Regions from separate parts of the Homo sapiens genome. Here region 1 is linked to region 2. The links come from fine-mapping of genetic effects on plasma protein levels. Region 2 holds a variant in brackets. A gene starts in the other region. All regions are shown on their forward strands. Region 1 holds the start of BPIFB2 (BPI fold containing family B member 2). Region 2 overlaps EGF (epidermal growth factor).

What was found. PIP is the posterior inclusion probability: the model's chance that the variant is causal. Protein levels are from antibody-based Olink assays in UK Biobank. Linkage for the fine-mapping came from a reference panel and not from the study's own genotypes, which makes the PIPs less certain.
Region 1: it holds the start of BPIFB2, and the variant in region 2 is fine-mapped to the plasma level of the BPIFB2 protein (UK Biobank, PIP 0.94).

Annotation. Positions count from the first base shown.
Region 1 is chr20:33,007,502-33,010,375 of GRCh38, forward strand. BPIFB2 (BPI fold containing family B member 2) reads left to right here and starts at 203. Exons shown (of 16, transcript NM_025227.3): 1 at 203-259; 2 at 1,040-1,182. The coding sequence starts at 1,074. RefSeq lists enhancers at 1-583, 584-1,578.
Region 2 is chr4:110,001,286-110,004,195 of GRCh38, forward strand. The region is part of intron 21 of EGF (epidermal growth factor); the gene reads left to right. Among named protein-coding and RNA genes, the nearest start is that of EGF, 90 kb to the left of the region's middle. The variant A/G (reference allele first, on the strand shown) is at 1,476.

The DNA.
Region 1 (2,874 bases), not on the chromosome of region 2:
GCTTGTAGTGGTTGGGAGCTGGGCCTGGCTACTGGCTACGTGGCAGCCCCAGCGCACATGTGGGATGAGACACTTTGGCAAAGGCCATGTTTGCAGGGAAAACACTTGCAACCACAAGCAAACTCGCCGCTCCCTGGGTCCCTTCCCAGTGGACTCTGCACATTGGGAGCCTTATAAAGTAGCCTCTGCATCTGCCTGCCTCGGGCAGAGGAGGGCTACCCTGGGGCTGAGAGTTCACCTGTCTCAGGAACCACCTGAGGTAGGCATGGGGCTGGGCTGGTACACCACTTCCAAGGAGGCTTGGCTTCTCTATCTGTTCAGTGGGGATGCTACCTCCAGCCACCCTCTGCAGAAGGGTCCTTCCACCCCTGGCCTTGCTGTAGGACCTGGGCAAGTGCCGCCATCCTGGGTCTCAGCAGACCCACCTGAGCCGCAGTCCCTCACTCCTGCCTGGCTCCCTCTCCCTGAGTCAGACACAGATCTGCCTATTTGGCCAGACTGAGTCAGGAGAGGATGGGGGCCATGTGAGAGGCCTACTCTTAGGCCATTTACCACCTGGCCAGGAGGGGATGAGGACAGGAGCCACCCTGGGTCCTCCCCTGGCTGAATTTGGTGGACAGCTGGACACCAAGCTGGCTGTCACACGGGGCTGGACTCCGGCATCAGGTGATACAGTCCTGGGCATCTTCTTGGGACAGGAAACTACCCTCAGTCTCCCCGTTTGGGAGTCTCACCATCCTTCTATGCCATGGCTTGGGTCCTGCACCTGGTCCCAGTCCACTGTGTGGCCCTAGGCAAGACCATTTCTTCTCTGGGCATTGCGGGTCATTTCCAGAAGGGACTCCCCCATGATTCCTGATGAAGCAAGCAAGGCAAGGTGATGGTTCCCAATGCAGAGATGCAAAAACTGATGTCTGTGGGCCTGGGGCAGGGCTGGGATCACCAGTCAGGGCTTGTTCCCTCCAGGCTGGAGTGGGGTTCGGGTGGCTCAGGGGTGGGCTGTTTTGGCTGAGCTCCCTGATGCTCATTTCTACCCCAGCCCACAGATCCTGTGGGCAGCGGCCAGGGCAGCCATGGCTTGGGCAAGTAGGCTGGGCCTGCTGCTGGCACTGCTGCTGCCCGTGGTCGGTGCCTCCACGCCAGGCACCGTGGTCCGACTCAACAAGGCAGCATTGAGCTACGGTAAGCGGTGTGTTACCCAGTGAGTGTCTGTGAGCCTGTACATGCGTGTGCAATCCTAAGTGTGTGTGCGTAGCTGTGAACTCAAAAGGCCCATGAGGACCCAGATTTTAATTGGAAGTTGTGTCCCTGGCACCCAGACAGTGCCTGACACATGGCGCTGCTCAACAAATGCTTATTACATAAATGCGTGAGGGGGGAGTACGTCATGTGGCCAGTGTGCAAGTGTGCACATGTGACTTGCTCACATGCTTTGGTGATGTGGGCATAGGTCGGTTTGAGGGGCTATTTTTACCTGTGTGTGTCTACTTATGAGTTTGAAATTTCATAGAGCTGTGCCCACGTGTGTACTTAAGTGTCGGGGAGGGTGCAAGCCCATGATGCTGCCTGGATGTGTGTGCACAGGTACGGCTGTTCACCCTGGGTGTACACGTTTGCGTATGTGGTGTGTGCACGCACGTGTGTTCTTGGGAGAGGTCTGTCTAGCACCGTGATGCAAGGAGTGTTCTAAAGTTATATCCCTTCTGAGCTCAGCGTGAGAGAACCATCCGCTCTCTGGGTCCCACTTGTGCGAGGGCTCTGTCTTACGGCTGTGCTGCTAGATCCTTCCAAGTCTTGCCCCAATCCCCTAAGGAGGGCACAATGAAGAAACTTAGCCCCAGGGAGGGACAGACATTGCCAAGGTCCAGGACGCCAGCACAAACATGTTTATTCACCTCGAGTTGCCTCCCGGTGAGAATTTGGTTTCCCACCAAAGCCAGGAGATCAGAAGCGGTTTCCCCCAAGGCCAAACTCAGATTACAGTGTGAGAAAGTCAGGTCAGACAGTAGATGGGACCTTCAGTGGCCCAGGACATGAAGCAGTGGCTCAGGGAAGTAGCAGGTTTCCCCCACCCCTGGGTAAACACAGCCTTCCGGGACCTCATATCCGGGCTGATGGGCAGGCAATGAAAGGGGTCAGTGATCCGTGCCAGAGCATGACATGGAGCCATTCATGGATGCCTGCAGGTAGGGCCATGAGGCCCGCGCCCTCCGCCGCCTTCCTGCCCTCTGCCCATCCTGTGCAAGCCTCCTTTGTCCCCAGGGAGCCCTCCCCAGCTTGCCTGCCTGTGTTTGTTTTTGGCAGAAATCTGGCTGGAGGCCCACGCTGGACGCATTGCTCCCCAGGCTGGGCTGAGTGGCTACTTCCAGTGTCCTCCCCACCCCATCCTGCAAGCCCCAGAGTTCAAACCCTGCGTCAAGGGAGCACTGTAGATGGAGTCTGAGGTCTGGGTGTGAGTTCCAGCTCAGCTGCAGATGGTTAGGTGGGAGAGGGGTGCTGGGAAACATGGAAACCACCGCCTTTATGCTTCTTGTTGGGGGAGACTAAGAACCAGAGAGGTGCAGGGACTCCTCAAGTTCCCACAGTGAGTCTGAGCAGTGGGCAGGCCTCTTGACTCCTCATTTGAAGCTCCCTTCCAGCACCATCACCTCTTATTCTAATTCAACTCCTGCTTAATTAGCACCTCTCTGGGGCTCAGCAGCACAGGTGAGTGAGGATGCCCAGAGGCTCGGGAGCCAGGTCCCTCGGTCCAAAGCCAGCTTTCCCTGGCCAGGTGCCCTCACCTCTCTGTAAACTGGGCACGATAACAGGAAAAGTAAAGCACTCAGAACAGGGCCTGGCACTACAGGATCACAACATAAACGATTGCCGCTA
Region 2 (2,910 bases):
TGCTATCTGTTATTTTGATTTTTTATGAACTGTAACCTTCCCCCAAAAGAGTCATATGCTCTAAGCCCTTTTCTACCACCTCTTGAGAGACAAGATTCTTAGGCACAAACTTGACATTTTAATTCAGTAGTCCATCAATAACATTGTAATTTTTAGCCTGGTGTGTAATCAATATCTTGGATATGTGTAGAAAGAATATTGAATGATCAATGGTTCATCCCATTGGATCATTGCCAAAGGGCAGGAAAAAAAAATGGAAACTAGAAACTTAAGTTCATGCGTGCCATAATTATTAAGTGTTTTTTCCTATTTGTTGTGTTATGATATAGTATGTCTTATGTTCTGTTGGCATTTTTCAGAGATCTGGATTGAAAGCTAACGGCAAATTGCTGGCTTTTTAAACTTGGAATTCAAAGACCAGCTCAGCTGAAAGATGACTATAGACTTTACATACATATAAGAGTATCTTCAACCTCAGACTCTCATACTCCAAAAATCAGAAGTGAAAGGACTATTCCTTCAAAAAGAAAGCTCATCAGAACCCTTTCTTTTTCTCTTCACTGAAATGCATCCAGAGTTGTACAATTCTTCCTGAGTGAATCTATGGTTATTTACCTAACAATTCTGATCAGTGTACCTGCTTACCTCTCCGCAAAGTTTCAGCTATGTGCATAACTACGTTTGCACTATAGATCAATTCTGACAAGATCAAATTAAAACTGCTAGTCTAAATGTTGCCATGTCATACTCAACTGTACCAACAAATACAGCTCTAACATTGAGTTTTTAAGTTAGACATGCTAACTGTTTTTCTTTAAAGGGTTAAAATCAGTTATTTCCTCCCTTATACCATTCCTTGCCTGTCTTGTCTAGCTTGTTTGATACCGTTTGTCTTCTGTGTCTCTCAAAGGATTAATTGTTTGTGTGCTGGGTGTGGTGGCTCGTGTCTATAATCCCAGCATTTTGGGAGGCCAAGACAGGCAGATTGCTTGAGCCCAGGAGTTCAAACCAACCTGGGCACCATGGCAAAACCCTGCCTCTACTAAAATTACAAAAAATTACCCAGGCATGGTGGCACACAGCTATAGTACCACCTACTTGGGAGGCTAAGGTGGGAGGATCGCTTGAGCCAGGGAGGCAGTGATTACAGTAAGCCGTGATTGCACCACTGCTCTCCAGCCTGGGTGACAAAGCGAGATTCTGTCTCAAAAACAAAACAAAACAAAAAAGACTAATGTTTGTGAAACTAAATAAATTTTTCAAGTATTCTAATCTTATTAGTTTAAAACATGTGATTTCTTGGAAGGACTCCCTTGTAAGAAAATCAACAGGAAGTATTTCATCACAAAGTATAACTTTGTTTTTTTGTGGGTTTTTTTTTAACTTTTATTTTAGGTTCAGGGGTATATGTAAAGGTTTGTTACACAGGTAAACTTGTGTCACTGGGGTTTGTTGTACAGATTATTTCATCACCC[A/G]GGTATTAAGCCCAGTACCCAACGGTTATGTTTTCTGCTCCTGTTCCTCCTCCCACCCTCCACCCTCAGGTAGCCCCCAGTGTCTGTTGTTCCTTTCTTTGTGTTCCTGAGTTCCCATCATTTAGCTCCCACTTAGAAGTTAGAATATGTGATATTTGGTTTTCTGTTCCTGTGTTAGTTTGCTAAGAATAATAGCCTCCAGCTCCATCCATGTTCCTACAAAAGACATGATCTCATTCCTTTTTATGGTTGCATAGTATTCCATGGTGTGTATGTGCCATATTTTCTTTATCCAGTCTGTCATTGATGGGCATTTAGGTTGATTCCGTGTCTTTGCCATTGCGAACAGTGCTGCTGTGATCATTGACATCCATGTGTCTTTATGGTAGAATGATTTATATTCCTCTGGGTATATACCCAGTAATGGAATTGCTGGGTCAAATGGTAGTTCTGCAGTTAACTCTTTGAAGCATCACCGTACCGCTTTCCATAATGATTGAAATAATTTCCTCTCTCTCCAACAGTGTATAAGTGTTTCCTTTTCTCCAAAATTTCATGAGCATCTTTTTTTTCTTGACTTTTTATTAATAGCCATTCTGACTGGTACAAATTATAACGTTGTACCTTTGCAACTTTGGAATTGTTTATATTAGCCACTTGTTTCAATTTTTTTCCTTGAAGCCTTTGATTAAAACACATAATAACCCACACCATCTCTTGGTACTGTCTGTGATGCCAGATTCACAGCAGCCCCTCCTATCCTTATCACTCTTCCTGGAACGTCCAGGTAGGGCTTTTGACAGAGGGTTGCATTCCTAGAGGCAATTAAGCTGCCTATCTGCCCCAGGACAGTGGCGTTATTGTGGAGTCTCACAGATGCACTGCTCTAGGGGCTACTGCTTTGAGGATGGGGATCCATCTCCATGCTAAATCTCCCCACCCCCACCCCTAGTGAATGACGCCGTGTATAGACTTAGCGTTGAATGTCAAACAAGACAGTACTCTAAAAAACTGGATTTGGAAGCAAGATACCTAGTGTATTTCCTGGCTTAGCCACTATGAGATTTTCTTATCTTGGGTCATCCACTCCTTCTGTCTTTGCCTCTAATTTCTTTATGAGTGAGAGATTGCAGTGGGCCAGTAAGAGCAGCCTAGGCTTTGTGTCATCATGACCGACTTCTTACACTACCCTTGGTAGCTGTGTGCCTTAGGTGAGTCACTGCCATTTCCAAGCCCCAATGGCTTCACTTGTAAATGGAGCTAACATAGTCTGCCTCACACAGTTGCTGAGATATTTTTTCCACAGACTGCCCCACTCCTCCCTGCAAAATTAGTTGTTTTTTCATTGCTATATCATCAGTACTAGGACAGTGCCTGGGGTATAGTTAGTACTCAATAGATACCTGTGAATGAATGAATGCAAGGCTATTCCCCC